Linked DNA regions of Homo sapiens. The protein of the gene in region 1 interacts with the protein of each later gene in a pairwise test. Each region holds a gene or a part of one and is shown in the gene's direction. Other genes may lie near its edges. The genes, in order: AHCYL1, SLC23A1, PIAS4 and UACA.

Region 1 (7,291 bases):
ATTGAACATATACTAAACGAAATTGGTTCTTAACCTTAGCCCCTCCTCCCAAATCCTGCAGAAACAATTGGGAAGAGACAGTGATTGACGTGTTGGGAGAAGTCAGAGAGTAGCCTCGGCCTTCCCCCATTTCTGGTGGGAAAGTTGCTGGCTTAGTAGGAACCATGTGATTACATGGCTTTTAGGGAAAGACAATGTATCCTTAAAAAAAAAAACATTTCATGGATTTTCCTTATAAGTTTTCAACTTTTTGTCTTCCTTTTGTATAGCAAATCCAGTTTGCTGATGACATGCAGGAGTTCACCAAATTCCCCACCAAAACTGGCCGAAGATCTTTGTCTCGCTCGATCTCACAGTCCTCCACTGACAGCTACAGTTCAGGTAGGTGTGAATGAACTCCATGTCCTCTCTAATCTCTCTTCCCTGTTTGCTACCAGTGCTCTTCACTTAGCAATCTGAAAATACCTCATGTTATGACTGCCCACCTTTGTGCTGAAAACTGTTAGTGGCTGGGCAGTGGGAATGTTCTGCAGCCAAGCTAGTAGCTGGGGAAGCTTTTGTCGACTCGAGACTTTCTTCCCCCTGGCTGTCTGTGTGTGTGGTCTGTGGCCAGTGCCCAGTTGGTAGGACTGGGCTAGTTCCCATTCCCACATTGATCCGCCCATTTCAAAAGGAAGAAATCAATGCTATTTTGGCTGACAGAATTGGACTTAAAAAAGAAGTGCATTTTGAAGCACGATTTCTTTGTGTAAAATATACCCTGTCACCTATCTCTTTCTTTCTTGTCTCCAAGACTGCTTAGATTGTAACAATAAAATTAGTATTTTGGCTTCTCTTATTTATTAGGTTATTCTTTCTGTTGGAATATCCTCCCCTGTTAGACTCTGGAGCAGGAAAGATTCAGACTACTGTAATGTAACTCCAGCTCTGTTTCTTTTTAGTTCTCTCCTCCTGTCTTAACTCTCTGTAAATAAAGTCTTTTTCTGTTTTGTATTGTGTCTTTCCCAACTATAGAGCATGTATTAGAAAATTAGCATGGAAAAGAATATAGAATCTTGGCAGATGAATACAGGAGAAAACATTAGGGACATCTAATGGGGCATCCAATACAACCTTGTCATTGTTTAACTGAAGACTCATTGTTAAAAGATTAAGAGGTTACAGATTGCTATTAATGTCAGCAGAGATATTTGTACCAAAAGCCATTCATTGTCCTTTGCCAGAATACCTTTTGCATTGTATTATCAACATTAAGGATTAACATAAATGAAAAGCTGTTATATATGATCCTGGAGTGACAGATAAAAAGTGGTGTGTGACAAGCAGGCTAACTGTAGCCAAGAAAGAAGAAAAATTAATTGTGAAAAATTGAGTTATGAGAGGAAGAACGATAAAACGACTGAAGAAGGCTTTTAAAAAGTCTTCAAAGATCTTGACGGCCATGTTACAGAAATGTATTAGAGCCTTTTAAAAAGCTTAGTGATATGGTTAAAATGTCATAGTGGGGAAGATAATCTTTAGTAGTATTTGTGTTAGCTGGACAGGAGGAGGACCTGTACATAGAAGTCAGTCAGTGAGAGAGTCCAGGTATACTAGCAGAAACCGTGATGAGGAAAGTACTCAATTCAGAGAGGAAAGAAGTGATTTGAGAGGTAAGGAATGATTGTTGTATATCCTCTTGCATATCTGTCAGATAAGTGGTATTTTTAGCTTTTATGTGAAACCACTTTTTAAAGTTGATCATTTTGACAGACTTTCCCAGGGCTATCAGTAGAACCAGAGCTGTTTGCCTTTTGTGCCATTTCTTTCTTTCTCTATTCCTTGAGCACAACTTAGTGTAAAATCCCTTGTAAGACTATCTTATCACTTTTGTCTATATCCATGGTTCTCAAAGTGTGATCCTCTGACTAGCAGCATCAGCAACACCTGGTAACTTGTTGGAACTACTAATGCTTAGGTGCCACTCCATACCTGCCAGATGGGAAACTGGCCACAGGGTCTAGCAATATATGTTTTAACAAACCTTCCATGTGATCCTGATAGATGCTTGAATTTGAGAACCAGTGATCTATAGAAATAGCATTCCTTATCTGCCCTAAATTATTCTTCTGTTTTTGCCAGGTCTGGTTCCAATCCAGATGGGACCAAGTACCTCTATTATCTGGGATTACTATAGCTGCAGGTTTATAATCAGTGGTCCCTTGTCATAGGCACTAATAGCACAGTATTGTTAGGGTGGGTGAAAGAGCTGCAACATGGAAGTACCCACAACAGTTTCATTCATACCACCTATTAGAACCTAGAGGAGCAGAACTGAGAGCGTTGTAAAAGGTAGCTCCAATTAAGGGTGTTCCCTTAACTTAAATGAAAGTCCCTTGGGGACTGCACTCTGTAGAGTTGGGGACCACTGAGGTTTTTCTATCCTTGTTTTTTTCTTTCCTGGCTCTAGCTGCATCCTACACAGATAGCTCTGATGATGAGGTTTCTCCCCGAGAGAAGCAGCAAACCAACTCCAAGGGCAGCAGCAATTTCTGTGTGAAGAACATCAAGCAGGCAGAATTTGGACGCCGGGAGATTGAGATTGCAGAGCAAGGTAAAGAAAGGGAGTGGGTTAGGGGACCAGAAACAACCCTCTTGTTGGCCATCAGAATCCACAAACAACTTAAGACTTGAAAGCTGACTTGAAAGTGTACTGGGAAGAAAGACAGTATTATGGACTTTCGGATAAACACTTCTCTCTCTATGGAACTTAAGTCTTGGGATTTTGTTCTCTCTTCCTTCTGTTCTCAGCATGTGGTGATTACACACAGAGTAGTTTCTGTTTTCCTCCTTGCCCCACCCCACCACTGTATTCAAAGATCTACATGGCAGAATTGACAAGTCCTAGATCACTACGTGGTAGTTGGTTATATGGGATCTTACTATAGCTGCCAATGGCAGAGACCCAGATTGCCCAGAAGCAGCTGATGAGGAAGGGTTTTAAGGTAAGGATGTGGTGACCTAGAGTCTTGTTTGGTCCTGAGCACCCTCTGCTGGAGCAGAGTAAAAGTGACTGACAGTTAAATCTTGGTTTCTCTACCCCAGCCACTCCCAGTAAGGTCCTCTTTACTCTTGTGTTGTTTACACATTGAAGGCATGTTCTATACTGAGAGAGAATAGAGAAACCAAACAGACTGACAGGACATGGTAAGACAGCATAGAAAAACAGAAGTTAGTGGTTTCGGCTGAGGGTACAGTCTTTCTGGTCTGATGATTATATATAGGAATCTATTAGCCAATGCCTTAACTATTTTCCTCTCTTCCCAAATGAATGATGAGACTCACCCTTCATTTTGATCAGTTTTAAGGATTTACTTCATTCTCTGTTCAGTCCTCTGTGTATAAAGCTGAAGCAGTAGAGGAAGAGAGAAACTCCAAGTGGTTGCATGACTGCTCTCCACTATTACTGTGCCGTTGAAGCTGCCAGTCGTCATGGAAATAGGCTTAAAGTTTTTCTGCCTCATCTCACCATATCTCAACAGATCCAGACCAGCCCTGGGGCAGGAACTGATGATACTGCTAGTGCAGACCTAGCTCAAATCCTCTGTTCTTTCACAGACATGTCTGCTCTGATTTCACTCAGGAAACGTGCTCAGGGGGAGAAGCCCTTGGCTGGTGCTAAAATAGTGGGCTGTACACACATCACAGCCCAGACAGCGGTGAGTTTGTTGGAAGAAAAGAGGGACTTCTGATAAGGGGAAGAAAGAAATCAATTTTTTTTTTTTCACTTTTCCTTTCCTAACTCGCCAACCTCCAAATGCTAACTATTAATAGGATCTCCCTGTTACACAATAATGGGGTTTTCTGGGTTTTTTTTTAATATGTAAACCCACTTTCAGCAAACTTGACCTAGGAAAGTCTAGATTTGCAAACATATGATTGTTATAAAATGTTATAAAGACTTTTAGAAACCTATGTTTTATGCAAAGTTAAATACCAGTGCACCACCTCGCTGGAGTACACCCTTTTGTAACTTTCCAGTGTAGCACCTGTTGGTGCAGAGTTGATAGGTATTGCTATCTTGATGAGGCTTGCTCTCCATTCCTGGGTGGCCCTTCTCTTCCTCACCCTGTCTTCCTACACTTCTACACAGGTGTTGATTGAGACACTCTGTGCCCTGGGGGCTCAGTGCCGCTGGTCTGCTTGTAACATCTACTCAACTCAGAATGAAGTAGCTGCAGCACTGGCTGAGGCTGGTAAGTTCGGTTTTTTCCCACCAACTTTGCCCCAAAATAGTTATCCAAACATATAACTTTTTTGTATCAAAATTGTCATTACAATATCATATATGTCTAGAGGCTATAAAATTGTGCATGATAAAAACCTCAACAGGAAGAAAGTGGATAATAAAATTAAGATGGATATCCATGGTGGAATATTATGTAGTCATTAAAAATGGCCTTTGAAAATAATCTAATGGCATGGGGTCATGCCCAGTTCTAGTGTTAGTTGAACGAGGAAGAATGTTAAACTATATAAGTGCCATCAATTTTGTGAGAGAGCACAAGTAAGAAGTACCTTTCATATTGATAGTGCATTAAATAATTTGGTATTCAGTATGGCATTGAAAATATATGAGCTATTTGTGAGTTTAATTAAACGTAAAATAATTTTTTATTATTCAGGCCAGGCCTGGTGGCCCACGCCTATAATCCCAGCACTTTGGGAGGCCGAGGCGGGCAGATCACTTGAGGCCAAGAGTTCAAGAACGGTCTGGCCAACATGGTGAAACCCCACCTCTACTAAAAATACAAAAGTTAGCCGGGAGTGGTGGTGTGCGCCTGTAATCTCAGCTACTCAGGAGGCTGAGGTAGGAGAACCACTTGAACCTGGGAGGCAGAGGCTGCAGTGAGCCGAGATCATGCCACTGCACTGCAGCCTGGGCGACAGAGTGAAACTCCATCTCAAAAATTAATAACAATAATAATAATTTTTATTATTCAAATATTCAGAAGAAAATCACCGTGAAGTTTCTTTGAGGACCTCTCATCTTTCTTTCTTTTTTTTTTTTTCTTAAGATGGAGTCTTACTCTGTTGCCCAGGCTGGAGTGCAATGGCGCAGTCTCGGCTCACTGCAACCCCTGCCTCCTGGGTTCAAGTGATTCTCATGCCTCAGCCTCCTGAGTAGCTGGGATTGCAGTGGCATGCCACCACACCCAGCTAATTTTTGTATTTTTAGTAGAGATGGGGTTTCACCATGTTGGCCAGGCTGGTCTCGAACTCCTGACCTCAAGTGATCTGCCTGCCTTGGCCTCCCAAAGTGCTGGGATTACAGGCGTGAGACACCACACCCAGCCGGACCTCTCATCTTTTTAAGATCCTCAGAAAGCAACTTTATAATACTTTTGGGTTTTTTTGTTTATTCTTTTCTGATAAGTGTTCACTGCAAAAAATTTAGGAAGTTCCCCAAAACCCTACAATCCCACTACATAGAGTATTTGATTAATGTTTTTCCTTTTCCTTTCTTCTACTTTACATAAATTCTAATATGTATACAGTTTTATAACCTAAATACAATATTTTCAGACGTAGTTTTCCATGTCACTGAAAACTTTGACAGCATCATTTGTAATAGTCATTCATATGGCTATGTGATTTCACCTCACTATTTTCCTAATGGAGAACATTTAGGTTGTTTCAAGATGTTTACTAATATCAATAATGCTCCAGTTAACAACTTTTATTAATTCCCACTTCATTTTATCTCCTTCTAAGTATAAAATTAGTCCAGAGAAAGGAACACTTTAAGGTTCCAAACTACTTTTAAAGCAAAAATTCCTTAATTTCTTAACCTAATTAATTTCTGAACCAAAAGTGATTCTTTGACTTTTGGCTCTGAATTTTTTCCCTTCTGAAATTGTTTCTTTTGCCTTTTTCTCTTCACATGGATCTCAGAAAGTGATTTGGTACAGGACACTCCTCAAAGGAGGAATCAGCTGATTCATTTCTGTCTCTACAGGAGTTGCAGTGTTCGCTTGGAAGGGCGAGTCAGAAGATGACTTCTGGTGGTGTATTGACCGCTGTGTGAACATGGATGGGTGGCAGGCCAACATGGTAATAATGCATATACATCCTACACTTTGACAATAGATTTATTTCCTTTTTTTCCCTCAAAGCATGGTTCCCTAAATATGTTTTGGATGTTTGGTCTTATGCACTGACTTTGTTGCTAAAGTGTTTAGCTTGATACCTATTCAGAATGGGTCTGAGTACTGAATGGAAAGGTGGGGGAAGGGTAAGACTAGCTGAACACATGGCTCAAACACACCAGAACAAAATAGTGGTGCTTCTTTGGAGTAGGATTCTGCTTTCTTTCCTTCCTGCCCCAGTTCTCCTTTTGCATTCAAAGGGGCTATATATTTCAAGACTCTAGACTAAAAATGAGTCTGTGATTAGCTTAATACTCATCACTGTAGCCTAAAGCAAACCTAGGAATCCTTTTAACCATTTTACACCAACAAATTTGACTGTATTTCCACTCTCTAAGCCTGCTCTAGGGAGCTCTGAGGAGTACTCTTCCAAAACATACAGGGCTCTCTTACTAGTACAGAAAGTGGGTTCAAAGTTCCCCCCAGCCCTAGCAGCCTGAATGCCCATAGAAGTCTTCTGGCTGTTCTATAGATCCTGGATGATGGGGGAGACTTAACCCACTGGGTTTATAAGAAGTATCCAAACGTGTTTAAGAAGATCCGAGGCATTGTGGAAGAGAGCGTGACTGGTGTTCACAGGTAACAGATTCTGGAGTAGCTGCCCCTTGTGTCCTTGCCTCAGCAAACTCTCCTGGTCTCTGTTAGGCTTTAGGACTGTGTTTCAGACTTATAACTAAATGGGAATATCTTCATTAGATAAAATTTTGAGTTTTTACTTTTGAAAAATCAAGTTGATCCTAGAAGGAAGTTATTTCAGGTTCTAGTTCATACATTTTTCTCTCCCATTTACTCCATTGAGTGATTCTCAACTAGTGTTGAGGGGCGGGTAGGGAATAAATGTATCTTGAAAAACTGTATTCAATATTGTATTATCATTTTATATTTGAAATATGAAAAACAATCCTATTGTAAAACTACATGTTATACACACTACAAAAAGTAAAACTGGGCAAAATATTCTTGGCTTGTTGGAATACTGAAAAGATATCTGAAAGAGTGTTTCTTGGGGGCACATTGCGCATGCTTACTCACACACACACGGAACCATATCAGAATCATTGATAGTCTTTGTTTATCAGAAGTAGGCATGGGTTTCTATTGAA
Region 2 (7,715 bases), on another chromosome or scaffold:
GCTTGCTCTGACGGTCTCCACTCCCGTCTGCAGGCAGCCAGGAGGGCAGGAAGCCCTTGCTCTGTGCTGCCATCCTGCCTCCCTCCTCCAGCCTCAGGGCACTCGGGCCTGGGTGGGAGTCAACGCCTTCCCCTCTGGACTCAAATAAAACCCAGTGACCTCACTTCTTTTCTCTGCAAAAGGTGCTTGTGGGGCTGGGAGTGCAGACATTGGTGTTTCTGCTGATGTCCCTTGTGAAAAAAAAAAAAAAACTCTCAAAATCAATTTTTTTTTTTTGAGACAGTCTCACTCTGTCACCCAGGCTGGAGTGCAGTGTTCTTGGCTCGATGCAACCTCCACCTCCCAGGTTCAGGCGATTCTCCCACCTCAGCCTCCTGAGTAGCTGGGATTACAGGCACCCACCATCATGCCCGGCTAATTTTTGTATTTTTAGTAGAGACGGGATTTCACCATGTTGGCCAGGCTGGTCTTGAACTCCTGACCTCAGGTGATCCGCTCGCCTTGGCTTCCCAAAGTGCTGAGATTACAGGCATGAGCCACCGCGCCCGGCCTTCAAAATGCTTTTTCTATTCTCTCACTCGACAACAGCACAGAAGATGGCTGTGACCGAATGCGTGGGGGCTTTCCCCCACACACCAGGCAAGCAATTCTGCAGCTGACACCAGCTGGGTGCCCTCCAAAATTCAATTCTGGCACTATCTACCTGGAGATAGTGTCAGATCCCACAGGCTGAGGGCTCAGTCCACCATTCTGTCCCCCATTCAGACACCAGTTCCAACTCCAGGCCTCTGGAGCTTCTGGCCTACTGGCTTCAAGATGAGGTTCCCACAACCCCCTCTTTTGAGTTCAACTAATTTGCTAGAGTGGTTCGCAGAGCTCAGAGAAACGTTTACCAGTTTATTATAAAGGATGTTACAAAGGATACAGATGCAGAGATGTGTAGGGCAAGGTATGGGGAATGGGCTCGGAGCTTCCATGCCCTCCATGGATGCAACACCGTCCAGGAACCTCCACGTGTTCAGCTATCCAGAAGATCTCTGAACCCTGCAATTTTGAGTTTCTGTGGATAATTCATTACGTAGGTATGATTCATTAAGCCATTGGCCATTGGCGAACAACTTACCCTCCAACCTGTCTGCCCTCCCTTGACTGGGGATGGGGGGTGAGGGGAGGCTGAAATCCTGCCTTGGTCTCTCTGGTGACCAGCCCCTGTCCTGAAGCTACCCTAGGGGCTGCCAGCCATCAGTCAATCATTAGCACACAAGAAGACATCATTTTGGGGATTCTAAGATTTTAGAAATTGTACTCCAGGAAACAGAGGTCAAAGACCAAATATATATTTCACAATATTACATCCCTCCTACAGAAGGCCAAATTTGCATCCCTACAACTTCCAGAGGTAAGAGGGAGCCATCAATGGTGTGGTGATGTAATCGCCCAAAGGGTTCACCTTGCTCAAGCCTAGACAGAGCCGATTGCTCAAGACAGGGGAATTGCAATAAAGACTAATTAACGCAGAGCTGGCTGTGCAGGAGACCAGCGTTTTACTATTACTCAAATCAGTCTCCCCAAGCATTCAGGGAGCAGAGTTTTTAAGGACAACTTGGTGGATGGCGGGGAAGCCAGTGAGCCAGGAGTGCTGATTGGTCAGGACTGAAATCATAGGGAGTTGAAGCTGTCTCCTTGCCTTGAGTCAGTTCCTAGGTGGAGGCCACAAGTCCCAACGAGCCAATTTATGGATCTGGGTGATGCCAGCTGATCTATCAAGTGCAGGGTCTGCAAAGTATCTCAAGCACTGATCTTAGGAGCAGTTTAGAGAGGGTCAGAATCTTGTAACCTCTAGCTGCATGACTCCTAAACCAAAATTTCTCATCTTGTGGCTAATGTTGCTCCATCCTACAAAGGCAATCTAGTCCTCAGGCAAGAAGGAGGTCTGCTTTGAGAAAGGGCTGTTATTGTCTTTGTTTTAGACTATAAACTAAAAACTAAGTTTCTCCCAAGGTTAGTTCAGCCTACACTCAGGAATGAAGAAAGACAACTTGGAGGTTAGAAGCAAGATGGAACTGATTAAGTTAGATCTCTTTCACTGTCTCAGTCATAATTTTGCAAAGGTGGTTTCAGTGACATCCCAGGTCTTCAGAGCCTTCATGAGAAAAGAGAACCAAGGAAAACTGTGCACGCAGGCCACCTTGTGGCACACCTATTCCAGCCACTCCATGCTATCTGCACCCCTCCGAGAACACACGTCTCACTGGGTCTACACCCAATGGCTGTTCATTTTCCACACTCTGCCTTTGACCCCAGCTGGTATGGATGGGCCCTGGGTTTCTGACCAGCCAGATTCAACATTTTGGTTCTCAGTCCTGCTTTCTCTGGAAATTCTTCTGGCTGGGGCTTTTCCTTAGTAAAGAAGCCCTGGACCCCACCTAGGTCTGGGAACTGGAGATCGGTGGCACCAGAACTTTCAGTTTCGTTTGTGAGTGTCTCTGATCTGGCCAAGCCCTGGGAGAGAGACAGAACATTCTAACCCTCATTTTTAGAAATATTTTTATTTTGCACGAGAGCCATGTGCAGGAAGACAATCTAATCCCCCTTTGACAGATGCAGAAACCGAAACTTAGACAACAGAAGGGGTTTGGGCCAAGTCCCTGGCTGAGTAGTAGTAGGGCTGGGAGGGGATTCAGACTTAGGGGACCGGAGAGGCGGGCTGCTGGGGGAATGGAGGTGCCTGGGGCAGGCCCTGGCCACTCCAGCTTCCCTGGGAGCTGCACTCAGCCCCCTCCATCCTTCACCTGTTCCAGGACCTGCCTGAAGCCCCACCATCCGTGGCCTTCACTCAGGAGAGAAACCCTAGACACCAGGAGGAAAGTCAGGGCCCAAGAAACCCACTAAGCTTTCAGGACAGGGTGTGGAGCCGGGCACCCATGACGTGGACCTGTGTTTCTGTGGGGTGATTAGAGAGGCTGCATCAGCTCTGGGTGTGTGGGCCCCTTCATGCTACTGTGGATCTGGGACCGTGTTCTCCACCTTGTTCTCTATGCGTGTTGTGTGGTTTGGGTTGAATTGAGTGTCCATGGAGCCGTATCTGCAGGGGGTCGGGCTTGGTCTCCACAGCACCCTGGGGAGTTCTGGGAGGAGAAGTTGGAGAGAAAAGTGCTGGGGAGTTGCAGAGGCTTCAAACTGGTCCAGCAACTTTGGAAATTGGGAGCAGTAGCCAAGAGGGAGAGGAGAGGACAGGCGGACAGAGGAACAGTGTGGACACCGGCAGGCGGGCGGACTCAGTGCTGTGGCATGAAGCTGCTGCCCAGCTGGAGAGCGGTGCTGCCCCTTGGCCCTTCAGGCAGGGCCTGGCCATGGGCACAGCGACCCAGAAGTAGGTGGGCTCTAGAGTGCTGGGGCTGGGGCAGCCCAGAGGGGAACAGAATGGGGACCTCAGGCCCAGCCCTCACCAGCTGAGGAGCCTGAGTTCTTAGGGCCCCTCCCCATGTCCCCCTCTGCCATCTCAGGCCCTAGGGCCAGGCTGGGCTGGGCCTGCCAGGAGGGGAGACAGGCTGGGCATAGGACTGCCTTCCTGGGCTAGGTGATGGGCAGTCACACAGGGCTTGGTGCATAGAAAGGCCCCACGCTCCATCTAATGCTCCTGCTATCTTTAAATTCTTTATACTTTTGGAATAAAGGCCTCACATTCTTACTTTGCACTGGGTCCCAGAAATTATGTGGCTGGGAGGGGAAAGGGATCTGTGCCCTGACACAGAGTGCAGACCCGGCTGGGCCAGCCTAGGCAGCTCTGCCTGCAGAGGCCCATCTGCTGCCTGCCTCAGGGACCCTGAGGGGTGCAGGGTGGTGAGGGCAAGGCAGCTCAGACCAACCTGAATTTTAGGATTGGTTTCTGCAAACTTGCTATCTGCATGGCTTGGGTCAAATCACATCTACTGAATCTGTTTCCTTCGCTGTTAAAGGGGTTAATACCGCCCAGCACAGGGGTTACTTGGGACAGTGCAGATCCATGTTTCTTGGCACAAGGCCAAGGCCATTCCTCAATAACGAGAATGACTATGATGATGATGATAATGATGAACTAGTTATTAATCAGTGGGGAAGGGCCTCATACAGGGGGTTACATAATAAGTGCCTGTTTCCACTCCCTCTTTCTCCGCTCACCTGGGGCTTGGTAAACTTCTGGTCCTCACCCCCTCGACTCTGGCCCTCTCTTGGGAAACAAGAACAGGTCCAGCGCCCAGGCGCAGATGTGGGCAGGGAAGGGCACATGTGGCAGAGGCTTGGGTGGCTTTTACTGTCCTAGTGAGAGTTAATACATTACCTCTGCCCGGGCCCCCCTTTCGCAATCCAGAGCTGGGCATCTGGTTACAGATTTACTTCAAACAATGCCTGATATGTGGAGTAAAGTCCTCCTCCTTGGCCTTTGTCAAGTCATCCCCTCTTCTCCTCAGGAACTGCTCAAACCTGTGCCCCAAAGATGAGGGCCCAGGAGGACCTCGAGGGCCGGACACAGGTGCTGGGGGCTGGGGGTGGGGGCTAGGGGGGGCAGGGGGGGTGGGGGGCTGGAGGGCCTGTGCAGGCCTTCTTCCTGGAGGCCAGAGATAAACGTTCTGATGAACTTGATAAGAGTGACTGTCCCAAATTGAATGTGGCAACTGGGGGATGGGTGGAGGTGGGGGTGAAGGAGCCTGCAGCTTTGGGACTGGCTGACTCCAGGTTGGGGTTCAGGAGAGGCCTAATCTCCCGGCCAGTGACACCCCAAGGATCTCCAGGGGGCAGAGGTGGGACCGGATTGGACTTGTCCACAGTCTTGAGCCCTCTTGGCCCCCTCTCCTGTGGTCTCCAAGACTTCTGACTTAAGGGTCCACTTCCCTGGCTAAAATGGCAGGTCCTGAGGGCTCTAGAAGCTGGCACAGTAGACTCATCCCTGCGGGAAGCAATGCAAAGTGGGAGAAAACTGTGGCCAGGCCAAGTGGCACCCGGGTGGATGGACTGTTGGGGAGGGCGGGAACCCCGCTCTCAGTTGCTGACAAGCCACTTGGGCTGCCTGATTGATTCTGGGGCAGAATGGATTTTGCCTGTCCCCATCACTTCACCCTAAGCTACTTATCTCTGCTGCCTCCAGCATGAAACCACCAGGGACCCCTCGACCCCGCTACCCACAGAGCCTAAGTTTGACATGTTGTACAAGATCGAGGACGTGCCACCTTGGTACCTGTGCATCCTGCTGGGCTTCCAGGTGGGTCCCCCAGGGCCTCCCCGCCCTCACTCTGCACACTCCCCGGGGACTCCAGCCCCTCCCTGGCCAGCAGGGAGTATCTTGGGTAACAGGAAGAAAAACCTGAGGTCAGCACAGTGGCTGTCAGCAAGCAGGAGTCGGGAAGAGGCTGAATCCTGAAAGAAGATGAACTCCCTGGGGGAGTGTGACGCTTGCCAGGTGGGGTGTTGGTGACAGGGAGCAGAGCCGACTCCACGGAAGCCGCAGGAATATCTTGAGTGGAAATTAGTGACCCCCAGAGTGGTCAGCAGTAGCTCTCTGGGAATCCCTTGTGGGGACTGCCAGTCCTGGGCAGGCAGCCGGTTCCAGGCCCGCTGAGGCAGGCATGAGGACACTAGGTTGTCCCCTCTCCCTGGAGCTCTGGGGTCCTGCCTCATGCACTCTGCTGTCTCCCTCTGCCCAGCACTACCTGACATGCTTCAGTGGTACCATCGCCGTGCCCTTCCTGCTGGCTGAGGCGCTGTGTGTGGGCCACGACCAGCACATGGTTAGTCAGCTCATCGGCACCATCTTCACGTGCGTGGGCATCACCACTCTCATCCAGACCACCGTGGGCATCCGGTGAGCCGCCCAGCCCCCCAACCCGTCCCCCGCCACCCCTCCACTGTGATCCACACAGCAGGAGCAGGTGGGCTCCCAGAGGACACTGGTGAGACAAAAAAGCCGCTTTCTGCCTCCACCTGCTTCTCCTATCCCAGGCCAGCCTTAGAGCTGGGCAGCGTGGCCCCAACCCTGGGAATCTTGATCTAGGCACACTTCAAAGACCAGGCATCTGCAAGTTTAAGGGATTGTACCCTCGCTGGCTCTCCCCTCTTTTTTTTTTTTTTTTTTTTTTTTTGGAGACGGAGTTTTGCTCTTGTTGCCTAGGCTGGATTGCGGTGGCGTGATCTCGGCTCACCACAACCACCACCTCCCGGGTTCAAGCGATTCTCCCGCGTTCAAGCGATTCTCCCACCTTAGCCTCCTGAGTAGCTGGGATTACAGGCATGCGCCACCATGCCCGGCTAATTTTGTATTTGTATCTGCCCACCTTGGCCTCCCAAAGTGCTGGGATTACAGGCGTGAGCCACCAAGCCTAGCCGGCTCTCCCCTCTTAAACCCCATTCTGAATATTGCCCAGATGGCAGCCCTGAGCTAGCTCCCAGGGTTGGTGCCAGCCTCTTCGACAGCCCACCCTCCCAGGGCCCCACGCTCCCGAGTGCACAGCCCTAGGCCTGGGTGGCATTTGAGCTGTTTGAGCAGCGGGGGACAGGGGAAGATTGTGAGAGAAACCTGGATGCGGGAACTGAGGTGTCCACTTCCGGGCAGGTGCCCCCTCCTCACAGTGCAGGAGCTGGTGGTGGGAAGGGGGCAGGTTTTGAGCTGGGGGCTCCATTTGTTTTCTTCCTTGGGCAGCCAAAATGTTAGAGATGGTCTTCCCTGGGGCCTCAACGATTTCCATCTGCCCTTGTCCCTTGTGTCTCTGTCACTCTCTCTGTGCTCTCCCTTCCTGATCTCTCCCCGCATCTTTATCCCTCCTCCCCACCCGCCCCTCCCCACCCCTGTTGCTTTGTGCCTCTCCTCCAGGCTGCCGCTGTTCCAGGCCAGTGCCTTTGCATTTCTGGTTCCAGCCAAAGCCATACTGGCTCTGGAGAGATGGAAATGCCCCCCGGAAGGTGGGTACACTTCTGGGGTCTGCACTGGGGAAAAGGGGAGGCCCAGAGACCTGGAGGTCTGAGCAACTGTCCCGGGTCAACACCAGGGTGCAGCCATGGCAGCATCTTCTCTCCCTCTCTGTCTCTGTACCTGGTCCGTGTGTGTATCCCTGACTCTACCCCCAGAGGAGATCTACGGTAACTGGAGTCTGCCCCTGAACACCTCTCATATTTGGCACCCACGGATACGGGAGGTGGGTTTGCATGTAAGCATAGAAGAGGCCGGGTCCTGAGGAGGGGCTATATGGGAGTGAGGGTGGCCGCTGAGTTTGGGGATTTGAGGAGGTGGTCCAGGAGCTTTGTTCCTGCTAGCAGCAGCCAGGTCATGACCTTTACATGGTGACTTACGGCTGATGTTTGCCCTTCCAGGTCCAGGGTGCAATCATGGTGTCCAGCGTGGTGGAGGTGGTGATTGGCCTGCTGGGGCTGCCTGGGGCCCTGCTCAACTACATTGGGCCTCTCACAGTCACCCCCACTGTCTCCCTCATTGGCCTTTCTGTCTTCCAAGCTGCTGGCGACCGAGCTGGCTCCCACTGGGGCATCTCAGCTTGGTGAGCAGGCACCAGGCCTGATCCCTGCCCAGCCCCAGCACCCTACCCTCTTCATGTCCTTGGTCCTTCTTCCCGGCTCCTGGCCCCAGCCTGGCCTCCCATCCACTTCCTGATTGTGCCTCTGCCCCCAGCTCCATTCTCCTGATCATCCTCTTCTCCCAGTACCTGCGCAACCTCACCTTCCTGCTGCCT
Region 3 (7,291 bases), on another chromosome or scaffold:
CCAGAAGGCTGCATACATTGAAATCCACACCCTGAATTGGAGGGGGAGAAAGTAGGTGAATCCCAGGAGCTGGGGGTCCCCGGTTTACACCGCCCGCCTTAGGAATTTATTCTGGTGTCCAGCATGAGCAGGAAGTTAAGTCAGGTGTTTTTTTGTTTTTTTTTTTTGAGACTGAGTGTAGCTCTTGTTATCCAGGCTTCCAGGCTGGAGTGCAGTGGCGCGATTTTGGCTTCCTGCAACCTCCACCTGCTGGATTCAAGCAATTCTCCTGCCTCAGCCTCCCAAGTAGCTGGGATTACAGGCGCTCACTACCACGCCCGGCTAATCTTGTATTTTTAGTAGAGATAGGGTTTTGCCATGTTGATCAGGCTGGTCTCGAATTCCTGACTCAGGTGATTCACCCACCTCAGCCTCCCAGAATGCTGGGATTACAGGCGTGAGCCACTGCGCCTGGCGGAAGTCAGGTTTTTTCCCAGTTATATAATGAATACGGGGTTTCCCCCTCCATACCGTGGATAGTGAGGTGGGATGGTTCCCTCGGTGGGGCCGTCCTGGGCACTGCAGGCTGCTGAGCAGCATCCCTGGCCTCCACCTGCTCTGTGCCAGGAACACCCCTAACTCTGACAACCACAGATGTCCCCAGACACAGCTCGGTGTCGCCTGGGGCAGGGTCGTCCTCAGATGAGGACGGTTGAACTGTGGCAGGTGAGGGGCCAGTGTGGCTGCCCTGCGCTCTGCTCCTCCCTCAGTCTCTCCGAGGCTGTACTGCCTCCAGCTGAGACAGATTCCTGCTGGGCAGGCTAATGGTAGGTGCTGGGCCCTTAGGACAGGGGAGGCCATTTGCCCAGGTCACCCCTGAGTCCATGGCAGGGCTGGGCCGGGCGCCCCCATTTAATGCCTAGCTTCTCGTGCCCAGCCGCTTCAGACCCACCGCCCCCACCTGCTGTGGGGCCAGGTTCCTGGGGCCTCCCAGCCTGGCCCTCACACCTAGTAAGGGTTCAGATCCAGCCGAGCCAGGCTTGGCCATGGAGGCCTCTCTGCCTGGGTGACCCAAGGTGGCGACCTCGTCTTTCTCAGCCTCGTCTTCCTTGTCTATGTACCTGGGTCAGCACAGCCTCCACCTGCACTGGGTCCCTGCTGCAGAGTGCTCAGAGCCAGCCACACAGTATAAAAAAATCAGTTTGGGCTGGGCACGGTGGCTCACAACTGTAATCGCAGCCCTTTGGGAGGCCAAGGCAGGTGGATCACGAGGTCAGAAGATCGAGACCATCTTGGCTAACACAGTGAAACCCCGTCTCTACCAAACATACAAAAAAATTAGCCGGGTGTGGTGACGGGCGCCTGTAGTCCCAGCTACTCGGGAGGCTGAGGCAGGAGAATGGCGTGAACCCGGGAGGCGGAGCTTGCAGTGAGCCGAGATCCTGCCACTGCACTCCAGCCTGGGCAACAAAGGGAGACTCCGTCTCAAAAAAAAAAAAAAAAAAAAGTTTGGTTTTCTCCTCAGAAAGCTTCTGGACATTTCTTTTTCTTTTTCTTTTTTTTTTTTGAAATGAAGTCGCTCTGTCGCCAGGCTGGAGTGCAGTGGCGTGATGTCGGCTCACTGCAACTTCTGCCTCCCAGGTTCAAGCGATTCTCCTGACTCAGCCTCCCGAGTAGCTGGGACTACAGGTGCGCACCACCACGCCTGGCTAATTTTTGTATTTTTAGTAGAGACAGGGTTTCACCATGTTGGCCAAGATGATCTCAATCTCTTGACCTCGTGATCCACCCCACATCTGCCTCCCAAAGTGCTGGGATTACAGGCGTGAGCCACCCTGCCCATCCCACATTTCTTTTTCTTATGTCGAGATATGATTTGCATACCATAGAATATACAGTTTTTAAGGGTGTCATCGAGTGGGTTCTCGTGGATCAGTAGGTATCGCAGCTCCCACCACTGCCTAGTCTCAGGGCAGTCATGTCCATCCCCAGCAGCTGCCACCCTTCATCCACTGGCCCCCACGCATCCCCTCCTGTCTGTAAATGGGTCTGTCCTGGACATTTCATAGAAGTGGAATCACATACTATGTGGCTTTCGTTTATTATTATTATTTAAGACAGAATCTCACTCTGTCGCCCAGGCTGGAGTGCAGTGTCGCGATCTCAGTTCACTGCAATCTCCGCCTCCCAGGTTCAAGTGATTCTCTTGCCCCAGACTTCTGACTAGCTAGGATTACAGGCGTGCACCACCACACTCAGCTAATATTTGTATTTTTTTTGAGACAGAGTCACACTCCGAGGCCCAGGCTGGAGTGCAGTGGCACGATCTTGGCTCACTGCAAGCTCTGCCTCCTGGGTTCACGCCATTCTCCTGCCTCAGCCTCCCAAGTAGCTGGGACTACAGGCACCCGCCACCACGCCTGGCTGATTTTTTTTTTTGTATTTTTAGTAGAGACGGGGTTTCACCATGATAGCCAGGAGGGTCTCGATCTCCTGACCTTGTTATCCGCCCGCCTCGGCCTCCCAAAGTGCTGGGATTACAGGCGTGAGCCACTGCACCTGGCCTAATTTTTGTATTTTTAGTAGAGACGAGGTTTCACCATATTGCCCAGGCTTGTCTCGAACTCCTGACCTCAAGTGACCCACCCACCTCCGCCTCCCAAAGTGCCAGGGTTACTGGCGTGAGCCACCTGCCTTGTGTGTCCTTTCGTGTCTGGCGTCTCTCACTGGGTGGGACATCCTCACGGTGCACCTGTGCTGAGGCCTGGGTCTGAGCCTGGCTCCTTTCCATGGCTGGGTCGCGTCCCGTGCGTGTTGGTCCTTCGGTCTACGGAAGGACACTCAGGATGCTGCTAGTTTGTGGCTGTTGTGGTCAGTTCTGCTGTGAACATCCACGGATGCGTCTTTGGGTAGATAGACTTTTTCCTCTTCTTCTGGGGGCGTTTCTTGTTAAAGTTTATCCTCAGGTGTTACTGGTTTTTGTTTTTTTTTTTTTGGAGAGTGTTTCTCTTTGTTACCCAGGCTGGAGTGCAGTGGTGCAATCATAGCTTGCAGCCTGTGCCTCCATGGGTTCAGACGATCCCCCTGCCTCAGCCTCCAAGCAGCTGGGACCACAGGTGTGCACCACCACGCCTGGGTAATTTTTTGTGGAGACAGTTTCACCATGTTGCGCAGGCTCGTCTCAAATTCCTGGGCTCAAGAGCTCCGCCAGCCTTGACCTCCCAAACTGGGTGTTTTCTTGCCATTGTGAGCCAGCTGCTAGATTCCCGCATGCACGTTTTAGCTATGTTTCTTCGCAGGGAGAGGCACCTGGCTGCCCTCTCTGGTTCAGGGTTTTGCTGTGGATTCTGTTGCATTTTCCAGGGAGGCCAGCCCCTCTCCTGACCTCACAGCCACTCCTCTCACCCAGCCCGTACAAAAGAGTCCTGGGCCTCAGTTTCCCAGCTCTGGGGGAGGGAGCCTTGTGGTGTGGCGGTCTCCACCTTGTCGGGTGGGCTGGGGTCACGCCCTCCTCACTCAGCTCTCCTTTCCTTTCCTCTGGTTTGCTCCACACCCACAGGGAACTGCAGCCCGGAGTTAAAGCCGTGCAGGTCGTCCTGAGGTATGCCCAGGTGTGCCCGCGACCCCAGGGCTGGACCCCCAGCCACCCGCCCCTCCCCGCCCCCCAGTCCTGGCCCAGGCCCTTCTCAGTCTCCCCTGCTAACAGCAGAGCCCAGCTCTCCTCACCTGCTGTCTATCCCTGTCTGGGGATACATCACCATCCGACCCCCACTCAGGCCACACCCGGGGGCCCTGATACCCCCCGTGTCACATTCTCCGGTGCCCCCATCACTGCCGCCTGGCTACCACTCGTGTACCCCCGCAGCAGCCTAGTCCCTCCTGTGCGCCCCCTCCCCGCCCCATGGTCCCTGTTGTCGTTGCAGAATCTGTTACTCAGACACCAGCTGCCCTCAGGAGGACCAGTACCCGCCCAACATCGCTGTGAAGGTCAACCACAGCTACTGCTCCGTCCCGGTGAGCATGCCCCGCCCCCGCGTCGGCTGCACGGGTTTGGGGGGCGTGGAGGGAGGGTGGGGGCCGTCGGATTTCCCAGCCGCTCTTGGCTCGAGGCTGAGCGGCCCATCTGCTTGCAGGGCTACTACCCCTCCAATAAGCCCGGGGTGGAGCCCAAGAGGCCGTGCCGCCCCATCAACCTCACCCACCTCATGTACCTGTCCTCGGCCACCAACCGCATCACTGTCACCTGGGGGAACTACGGCAAGGTGAGTGCGTGCCCGGGTGCCCACCCTGCCCCCCAACCCCGGCCCCGTCCTGCCAGCCCTGACCCCTTCCTTCTGTCCCCAGAGCTACTCGGTGGCCCTGTACCTGGTGCGGCAGCTGACCTCATCGGAGCTGCTGCAGAGGCTGAAGACCATTGGGGTAAAGCACCCGGAGCTGTGCAAGGCACTGGGTGAGCAGCTCAGGCCACCTCGGCCGAGGGGTGCCAAGTCCACCCTGGAAACCCGCCCTGTGCTGGGTGAAGCGGGGGGCCCTGCACCCGGAGGAGATCGATCAGGGGCCGCCTGTCACTCTGGGGGTCCATGGCCCCCCGGCTGTGGCTGGGGAGGTCTCTGGAGGATACGGATGGCAGAGGGGGCACTTGGCAGTGGGAGCTGCTGTGCGGAGGCCTGTGGGGTCACACCTCGTGTTGCTGGCCCCAGGTGCTCCAGCCCACAGGGGTCTAAGCAGCAGAAGAGCTGGAGCCTCATTCCGGGACAGCACAGAGGCCGGGAGGGGTGAGAGGAGCACAGAGGGAGCTGTGGTCTAAGCAGCCCCTTCTCGTTGCCTCAGCGGGGCCGAGGGTGCTGCGGGACCTGGCGGGTCACGGACGGCCAGGGTCGTGGAGGCAGTTGCTGTGGGAGGAAGACGGGCGGCGGCGGTCTGACCTCACGTTGGTGAGGCCCCGTTTAATCTTTTTTCTTTTTCTTTTTCTTTTTTTTTTAGAGAGTCAGGGTCTCTGGGAGGTAGAGGTTGCAGTGAGCTGAGACTGCATCGCTGCACTCCAGCCTGGGCTGCAGAGCGAGACTCCACCTCAAAAAAAAAAGTGTCTCGGTGTATCGCCCAGGCTACAGTGCAGTGGTGGGATCGTGGCTCACTGTAGCCTCTAACTCGGGCTCAAGCCATCCTCCTGCCTCAGCCTCCTGAGTAGCTTGGGACCACATGTGTTCACCACCACACCCAACTAATTTTTTTTTTTTTTTTTTTTTTTTTTTTTGAGACAGAGTCTCACTCTGTTGCCCAGGCTGGAGTGCAATGGCACGATCTCGGCTCACTGAAACCTCTACCTCCTGGGTTCAAGCGATTCTTCTGCCTCAGCCTCCTGAGTAGCTGGGACTACAGGCATGTGCCACCATGCCCGGCTAATTTTTTGTATTTTCAGTAGAGACGGGGTTTCACCTTGTTAGCCAGGATGGTCTTAAGCTCCTGACCTCGTGATCCGCTTGCCTCGGCCTCCCAAAGTGCTGGGATTACAGGCGTGAGCCACCACGCCCGGCCCCAACTAATTTTTTAATGTTTCGTAGAGATGGAATCTTGCTGTGTTGCCCAGGCTGGTCGTAAACTCCTGAGCTCAAGCAGTGCACCTGCCTCAATCTCCCAAAGTGCTGGGATTACAGTCTTGGCCACTTTCGCACCTGGTCTCTTTTGTCCTTGTAACAATGAAAACAATTTTTTTTAAGTGACACGCAGAGCAATTTTAAAAGAAAGCCTGCCGGCAAGGCGCAGTGGCTCACACCTGTAATCCCAGCACTTTGGGAGGCCGAGGCGGGCAGATCATGGGGTCAGGAGAGCAACACCATCCTGGCTAATATGGTGAAACCCCATCTCTACTAAAAATACAAAAAATTAGCCAGGCGTGGTGGCAGGCACCTGTAGTCCCAGCTACTCGGGAGGCTGAGGCAGGAGAATGGCGTGAACCCAGGAGGCAGAGCTTGCAGTGAGCGGAGATCGTGCCACTGCACTCCAGCCTGGGTGAGAGTGTGAGACTCCATCTCAAAAAAAAAAAAAAGCCTGCCAAGCCTGGTAGGCAAATCAGTCCTCACCCCAAGCAGCCACGCAGCACAAAGCCAGCGTACAGCAGTTAGCCCTGCCTGGCGGCTGTGTGGCCTCAGAAAGTCGCTGGCCTTCTCTGGTGGCCACTGTCTTCAGGAGAATAGATCTGAGCCATCTTGAGGGCACCTGGACATCTCTCTGGACCCCACATGCTTGGGGCCCAGGCCTCAGTGGGCTCTGCAGGCCTGTCTTATGGAGAGGCTAGGCCTAACCTGGAGTCATTTGGAGCTGGGAGTGGGAGTCAGGCAGGTGGGTGAGGACTGGGACCACCTGCCAGGCTGACGAGAGGGCGGTTCTGGGCCAGCCGGGTTTGCTCGCACCCCCTTCCCGAATGGTGGCTGTTTTCAGGTGGAATCTGGGCACCACCCCAGCCCCTTGGCAGAATGTGGGCCAGAGGGTCTTCCAGCTGCCCCTCCTAGCTGCCCAGGCCCCTGTGCCCAGGCCAGAGAGTTCCCCATGAGCACTGCCCTCCTGGCACAGCCAGGCCCAGGCCTCTGGTCCCTGTTCCTGACCACCAAAGGGCACCTCCTTGCCTGGGTGTCCAGAAGCCTGGAGCAGTGCTGGCACTGCCAGGGGCCTGCGAGCCCCATCGTGTTGAAGCCTCCTGTGCACTCCAGCCCCCCAAGTCAGGAAAGATAGCCGGCAGCACCCCCTCTGCAGAGCAGGACGTGGAGGGTGAGGGGTCCCTCCACGGAGTCCGGCATCCTTGGCCAGCCTCCTCCAGGCTCGGGGATGGAGGGCCTGGCTATGTACCCGTGTGACCAGTGGGGACACTGAGGCACAGAGTGGCAAAGTTAGGGTTCTGTGTCCTGGGTTACCCCGCCCCACCTCCCTCTTCCCTCAAAGGGCCCTTTTTTCAACCGCCCCCGACCTTCCCTGCCTGTGGGGACATGGCCAACTTGAGGGAGGAGGCTGGGGCCGGGCAGGCCTCTTCTAGGCCCACGGGGTGGGGGCCGGGCTTAACTCCTCAGTGACCAGAGCCCGCAGTGCTGGGGGCTGTGGGGTCAGGCTTCCTCTCCGAAGGGGTCTCCTGCTGCTTCCCACAGCCGGCCCCAGGCTCAGCCTCTCTGTCACTGGATTTCTTTCTTGCTGCACCTAGGAAGTCCTCACCTTTGCCTCACTTGAACCCTTCCTGCTGCGCACGTCTCTCCATACACAAAGGAGGGAGAGTTTGCTTTAAAATCAGATGGGCACCTGCATCCCCTCCTAGCTGCCCCTTTGC
Region 4 (7,291 bases), on another chromosome or scaffold:
TTACCACAAAAATCAGCATTGTGATTTTTTTTCCATCTTACTGCCTAATCTGAAAACCCTTTGATTCCTGATGATGTGCTAACTTTCTCTAAGTTTGGCAAATAAGTATAGTAAATGTCTCATTTAGGCTTTTGTGATTGATGTCTTTTTTTTTTTCTTTTCAGTGTACTTCCCCAGGTATACCAGCCCATATGCAAAGCAGATCTATGTTAAGACCTCTGGAACTATCTTTACCCAGTCAAACGTCATACTCTGAAAATGAAATTTTAAAGAAAGAGTTAGAAGCAATGCGAACTTTCTGTGAGTCAGCAAAACAAGACCGACTGAAGCTCCAAAATGAACTGGCACACAAAGTGGCAGAATGCAAAGCTTTAGCATTAGAATGTGAAAGGGTCAAGGAGGATTCAGATGAACAGATAAAGCAATTAGAAGATGCATTAAAAGATGTGCAGAAGAGGATGTATGAGTCAGAAGGTAAAGTTAAACAAATGCAGACCCATTTTCTTGCCCTTAAAGAACACTTAACAAGTGAAGCAGCCTCAGGGAATCACAGACTAACCGAGGAACTGAAGGATCAGTTGAAAGACTTGAAAGTAAAATATGAAGGTGCTTCAGCAGAAGTGGGGAAATTAAGAAACCAAATCAAACAAAATGAGATGATAGTAGAAGAGTTTAAGAGGGATGAAGGCAAGCTGATAGAAGAAAATAAGCGATTACAGAAGGAACTTAGTATGTGTGAAATGGAGCGAGAGAAGAAAGGAAGAAAGGTCACAGAGATGGAAGGCCAGGCAAAAGAATTGTCAGCGAAGTTGGCCCTTTCCATTCCAGCTGAAAAATTTGAAAACATGAAGAGCTCATTATCAAATGAAGTGAATGAGAAAGCAAAAAAATTAGTAGAAATGGAAAGAGAACATGAAAAATCACTTAGTGAAATTAGACAGTTAAAGAGAGAACTTGAGAATGTTAAGGCCAAGCTTGCTCAGCACGTCAAACCAGAGGAACATGAACAGGTTAAGAGCAGATTAGAACAGAAATCAGGAGAACTTGGGAAGAAGATCACTGAGTTAACATTGAAAAATCAGACACTACAAAAGGAAATTGAAAAAGTTTATTTGGATAATAAGCTCCTCAAGGAGCAAGCACATAACTTAACAATTGAAATGAAAAATCATTATGTTCCTTTAAAAGTAAGTGAAGACATGAAAAAGTCACATGATGCAATTATTGATGATCTTAATAGAAAGCTTTTAGATGTAACACAAAAATATACAGAAAAGAAGTTGGAAATGGAGAAATTGCTACTGGAAAATGACAGCTTAAGTAAGGATGTAAGCCGCCTAGAAACTGTGTTTGTACCTCCTGAGAAACATGAAAAAGAGATAATAGCTCTGAAATCCAATATTGTTGAACTTAAGAAACAGCTGTCTGAACTTAAGAAAAAATGTGGTGAAGACCAGGAGAAAATACACGCTCTCACATCTGAAAACACTAACTTGAAGAAGATGATGAGTAATCAGTATGTGCCAGTTAAAACCCATGAAGAGGTTAAAATGACACTGAATGACACGTTAGCCAAAACTAACAGAGAATTATTAGATGTGAAGAAAAAATTTGAAGATATAAATCAGGAATTTGTAAAAATAAAAGATAAGAATGAAATATTAAAAAGAAACCTGGAAAACACTCAGAACCAAATAAAAGCTGAGTACATCAGCCTGGCAGAGCACGAGGCAAAGATGAGCTCGCTAAGTCAGAGCATGAGAAAGGTGCAGGATAGTAATGCTGAAATCTTGGCCAACTACAGAAAAGGCCAAGAAGAGATTGTGACACTGCATGCCGAAATTAAAGCCCAGAAGAAGGAGCTCGACACAATACAAGAATGCATTAAGGTAAAATACGCCCCAATTGTCAGCTTTGAGGAGTGCGAGAGAAAATTTAAAGCAACAGAGAAAGAACTAAAAGACCAGTTATCAGAGCAGACACAAAAGTATAGTGTCAGTGAAGAAGAAGTCAAGAAAAACAAGCAAGAGAATGACAAGTTAAAGAAGGAGATTTTTACCCTTCAGAAAGATTTGAGAGATAAGACAGTTCTCATTGAGAAGTCTCATGAAATGGAAAGAGCATTAAGCAGAAAAACAGACGAGCTAAACAAACAGTTAAAAGACTTGTCACAGAAATACACGGAAGTAAAGAATGTGAAAGAGAAGCTAGTAGAAGAAAATGCCAAACAGACTTCTGAGATACTTGCAGTGCAAAATCTTTTGCAAAAACAACATGTTCCATTGGAACAGGTTGAGGCTCTGAAAAAATCTCTTAATGGCACAATTGAAAATCTAAAGGAAGAACTGAAGAGTATGCAAAGGTGTTACGAGAAAGAGCAGCAGACAGTGACCAAACTGCATCAATTGTTGGAGAATCAAAAGAACTCTTCTGTACCCCTGGCAGAGCATTTGCAGATTAAAGAAGCATTTGAGAAAGAAGTTGGAATCATAAAAGCCAGCTTGAGAGAAAAGGAAGAAGAAAGCCAAAACAAAATGGAAGAAGTCTCCAAACTTCAGTCGGAGGTTCAGAATACTAAACAAGCATTAAAAAAATTAGAGACTAGAGAGGTAGTTGACTTGTCTAAATATAAAGCAACAAAAAGTGATTTGGAGACACAGATTTCTAGCTTAAATGAAAAATTGGCCAATCTGAATAGAAAGTATGAGGAAGTATGTGAGGAAGTTTTGCATGCCAAAAAGAAGGAAATATCTGCAAAAGATGAGAAGGAATTACTGCATTTCAGCATTGAGCAAGAAATTAAGGATCAGAAGGAACGATGTGATAAGTCCTTAACAACAATCACAGAGTTACAAAGAAGAATACAAGAATCTGCTAAACAAATAGAAGCAAAAGATAATAAGGTAGGTACAAAGTAGTCTGCACGGCTATGTGTTGGAAACCCCAGAGCAGTGCTCTTTACCACAGAATCTCACAGGAAAGTAGACACAGGTATTAACAAAGTGACCCTTTCCAGTTTAGCAACTTGCGTGCAAAAATTCCGAATTGAAAAAAAAAGTGAAGTAACACAAAAGTCAAAAGCATTTTTCCTTCTGTTTCTTTAGCTGTTCTAGCCAAGAATTCAGGAACGATGGGGAGACTTAAGGCTCACTTGTCTCATACATGAAGAGTCAAAAGCCAGTGGGTTTGTGGCATATGAAAGATGGGGAAGAGGGTGGTGGGGAAGCTCTCTTTCTGGGCTGCAAGAAACCAAGAACACTGGGGAGCATCTAGAGTTGATCTCGGTACTCACCCATAGTAGTAAACTGAGCCCTCCAATTCATTTTATGTTCTGTTGCTCATGTCTTTCTACAGACTAGAAAGTCTACATCCCCTCACCCAGAATGTCCTTTCCCTCCTTTCTACTGAGTTGAATCCTATACATTCATTAACATGTTATCCTCCTTCTTAAAGCCCTCACTGTCCAATCTAGTCTATAGTAAACAGTTCCTCCTCTAAGGTGGATGTTTTACTGTGGCTTTGCCATCCATTTAAAACATTTATATTACCTTGTTAGAATTATGTAGTTGATCTTCCCAATCAGTTTTTATGAGCAGGGTTTATAACTTAACTTTCCATCTTAGCTTTAATTCTCATGGTACAATTTACAGAATAGGTACTCAACAATATTTTTGACACTGATGTTGCATAAAGTTTTTACTATGGATATGACATATAAAGATTGGCTGCAGTTTTATCCATTCAACATGTAATGATTAAATGCCTTCTGCATGTCATGTGCTGGGGATACAGTGGAGTAAACACAGACACAGACTGCCCTCCCCAGTGGAAAGTACTTGTACATACTGTCCTCTGGCACACCATCTCTGTGATTGAGAATTTAAATGCTCTAAGCTTGTTCAGAAGGTACCTATGAATATATATAGTAATATATAAGAGTTAATTATTAATATCTACTTGTTGCCATTTATTGAGCGGGTGCATGTAATTGCATTTCATTTTCTTTGTTTTTTTTCTATTATTATTTTTCAATAAAAAATTTTGTGGGGGAGGAGATGGTATCTTGCTCTATTGCCCAGGCTGGTCTTGAATTCCTGAGTTTAAACAATCTTCCTGCCTTAGCCTCCCAAAGTGTTGGGACTATAGGTGTGAGCCACTGTGCCCAACCTGATTTTCTTAACTCTGAAAGATTGTCCACCTTTCACCAATGTGGAATCTAAGGCTCAGAAAAGTAAATTAGCCAAGCTCATACAAGTTGACTCTGTCTGACTTTAAAGCAGGGTGGAAAAATGCTATGTTTCTAGGCACTTCCTATTCCTATAAACAAGCCTCCTTGTTTTTTTTCTCTCTACAACAAAGTGGTCTTAAATAATACAACTCTTGAAAGGAAAAAGGAACATATGTTAATCCTAGACTTACACGGGCCACACCCTTTTACTTTTCACACTTTGTTGCTGGGAATCCCCCTTCCCTTCCTGTGTTCCATATGTTACCTGGAAGATAGTTCATGTGCCTTCGTAGATGCTTATATATTAGCTAAAAGTAAGACTATGTTTATACTCACATCTTAGGATATATGTAATATTTATTCTTAATTTGGTATTGCTTTTGTAAATAATTTCTGGAGAGGGATTTAATTATAAATTACATATTGTATACATCCTTGGTAACAGTCTTGGCAATATTCATACCTCAATTTTCTGGTGTATAAAGATAAAGCTTCTGTCTCCAAAAAGGAATGATTTCTGTACAAAGATGTTCATTGTACATGATAAGTGAATAATATATTTCTCCTACAACATTTTTTTAAAGATAACTGAACTGCTTAATGATGTGGAAAGATTAAAACAGGCACTCAATGGCCTTTCCCAACTCACCTACACAAGTGGGAACCCCACCAAGAGGCAGAGCCAGCTGATTGACACTCTGCAGCACCAAGTGAAATCTCTGGAGCAACAGCTGGCCGTGAGTAACCAGGCACACGGGGCTTTGCAGGAATATGTGCTGGCTCCCTGTAGTTAGTTTGTAAGGCTCATTTAGAAATTAAAGTGCTCTGTAGCTATGTTCGGATCCAAGAATATAATTATTTTTATATGCGAAAAGTTACCTATACTGGTGGTGTAATAATACTTATTTGATGCCTACTATACACCAGGCACCATATTAAACATTTTACGTACTTTATCTATAAACTTTATCTTCATCATGATCTCACAAAGCAGATTTATTCCCTCCATTTAATTCTTAAGGAAACAAAGAATAACATATTTGATGCCTGGGGTCATTCAGCTGGGGTATAAACCTGGAACTGGCTGACTCCAAATCCAGCATCTTTCTCATTGCAGGGTGCTCTCTAAAATATTGGTCCACTAAACTAAAGGAGGTTTTAAAATAATCTTTTATCTTTGTGAATAAAGAGGCATTCCTATGGTTTTATACCTTATATAGAAGGATAAGTGCCTGGATTTAGAAGCTAATGTTGGAAGGTCTGGTCTAAGTCCTGCCACTTACAAGGAAGTGGCAAGGAACATTCCCTTTAACTCTTGGTTTTCTCATCAAGAAAATAGAATAATAACTGATTACTTGTTTACATTTATTATTATTTTTATTATACTTTAAGTTCTAGGGTACATGTGCACAACGTGCAGGTTTGTTACATATGTATACATGGACCATGTTGGTGTGCTGCACCCATTAACTCGTCATTTAACATTAGATATATCACCTAATGCTATCCCTCCCCCCTCCCCCCACCCCACAACAGGCCCCAGTGTGTGATGTTCCCCTTCCTGTGTCCATGTGTTCTCACTGTTCAGTTCCCACCTATGAGTGAGAACATGCAGTGTTTGGTTTTTTGTCGTTGCGATAGTTTGCTGAGAATGATGGTTTCCAGCTTCATCCATGTCCCTACAAAGGACATGAACTCATCCTTTTTTATCACTGCATAGTATTCCATGGTGTATATGTGCCACATTTTCTTAATCCAGTCTATCATTGTTGGACATTTGGGTTGGTTCCAAGTCCTTGCTATTGTGAACAGTGCCGCAATAAACATATGTGTCTTTATAGCAGCATGTGTCTTTATAGCAGCATGATCTATAATCCTTTGGGTATATACCCAGTAATGGGATGGCTGGGTCAAATGGTATTTCTACTTTGAGATCCCTGAGGAATCGCCACACTGACTTCCACAATAGTTGAACTAGTTTACAGTCCCACCAACAGTGTAAAAGTGTTCCTATTTCTCCACATCCTCTCCAGCACCTGTTGTTTCCTGACTTTTTAATGATTGCCATTCTAACTGGTGTGAGATGGTATCTCACTGTGGTTTTGATTTGCATTTCTCTGACGGCCAGTGATGATGAGCATTTTTTCATGTGTCTTTTGGCTGCATAAATGTCTTCTTTTGAGAAGTGTCTGTTCATATCCTTCGCCCACTTGTTGATGGGGTTGTTTTTTTCTTGTAAATGTGTTTGAGTTCATTGTAGATTCTGGATATTAGCCCTTTGTCAGATGAGTGGATTGCAAAAATGTTCTCCCATTCTGTAGGTTGCCTGTTCACTCTGATGGTAGTTTCTTTTGCTGTGCAGAAGCTCTTTAGTTTAATTAGATCCCATTTGTCAATTTTGGCTTTTGTTGCCATTGCTTTTGGTGTTTTAGACATGAAGTCCTTGCCCATGCCTATGTCCTGAATGGTATTGCCTAGGTTTTCTTCTAGGGTTTTTATGGTTTTAGGTATAACATTTAAGTCTTTAATCCATCTTGAATTAATTTTTGTATAAGGTGTAAGGAAGGGATCCAGTTTCAGCTTTCTGCGTATGGCTAGCCAGTTTTCCCAGCACCATTTATTAAATAGGGAATGGTTTCCCCATTTCTTGTTTTTGTCAGGTTTGTCAAAGATCAGATAGTTGTAGATATGTGGCATTATTTCTGAGGGCTCTGTTCTGTTCCATTGGTCTGTATCTCTGTTTTGGTACCAGTAGCATGCTGTTTTGGTTACTGTAGCCTTGTAGTATAGTTTGAAGTTAGGTAGCATGATGCCTCCAGCTTTGTTCTTTTGACTTAGGATTGACTTGGCGATGCAGGCTCTTTTTTGGTTCCATATGAACTTTAAAGTAGTTTTTTCCAATTCTGTGAAGAAAGTCATTGGTAGCTTGATGGGGATGGCATTGAATCTATAAATTACCTTGGGCAGTATAGCCATTTTCATGACATTGATTCTTCCTACCCATGAGCATGGAATGTTCTCCCATTTGTTTGTATCCTCTTTTATTTCATTGAGCAGTGGTTT

The links.
Region 2: the proteins of AHCYL1 (region 1) and SLC23A1 interact in binary tests that used the Homo sapiens proteins (3 or more experiments, as listed by UniProt).
Region 3: the proteins of AHCYL1 (region 1) and PIAS4 interact in binary tests that used the Homo sapiens proteins (3 or more experiments, as listed by UniProt).
Region 4: the proteins of AHCYL1 (region 1) and UACA interact in binary tests that used the Homo sapiens proteins (3 or more experiments, as listed by UniProt).

The regions. Positions count from the first base shown.
Region 1 is NC_000001.11:110,008,765-110,016,055, forward strand, and holds part of AHCYL1 (S-adenosylhomocysteine hydrolase-like protein 1), read left to right. Parts: intron 1-269; coding exon 270-381; intron 382-2,449; coding exon 2,450-2,593; intron 2,594-3,597; coding exon 3,598-3,698; intron 3,699-4,132; coding exon 4,133-4,235; intron 4,236-5,998; coding exon 5,999-6,093; intron 6,094-6,660; coding exon 6,661-6,767; intron 6,768-7,291. UniProt on the Homo sapiens protein: Multifaceted cellular regulator which coordinates several essential cellular functions including regulation of epithelial HCO3(-) and fluid secretion, mRNA processing and DNA replication.
Region 2 is NC_000005.10:139,380,016-139,387,730, reverse strand, and holds the start of SLC23A1 (solute carrier family 23 member 1), read left to right. Parts: upstream 1-4,433; 5' UTR 4,434-4,451; coding exon of another isoform or gene 4,452-4,477; coding exon 4,478-4,513; intron 4,514-5,125; coding exon 5,126-5,239; intron 5,240-5,681; coding exon 5,682-5,839; intron 5,840-6,844; coding exon 6,845-6,933; intron 6,934-7,098; coding exon 7,099-7,166; coding exon of another isoform or gene 7,167-7,178; intron 7,179-7,341; coding exon 7,342-7,523; intron 7,524-7,654; coding exon 7,655-7,715.
Region 3 is NC_000019.10:4,024,608-4,031,898, forward strand, and holds part of PIAS4 (E3 SUMO-protein ligase PIAS4), read left to right. Parts: intron 1-3,538; coding exon 3,539-3,580; exon of another isoform or gene 3,581-3,582; coding exon of another isoform or gene 3,583-3,590; intron 3,591-3,902; coding exon 3,903-3,993; intron 3,994-4,112; coding exon 4,113-4,241; intron 4,242-4,323; coding exon 4,324-4,429; intron 4,430-7,291.
Region 4 is NC_000015.10:70,662,336-70,669,626, reverse strand, and holds part of UACA (uveal autoantigen with coiled-coil domains and ankyrin repeats), read left to right. Parts: intron 1-164; coding exon 165-2,903; intron 2,904-4,812; coding exon 4,813-4,965; intron 4,966-7,291. UniProt on the Homo sapiens protein: Regulates APAF1 expression and plays an important role in the regulation of stress-induced apoptosis. Promotes apoptosis by regulating three pathways, apoptosome up-regulation, LGALS3/galectin-3 down-regulation and NF-kappa-B inactivation.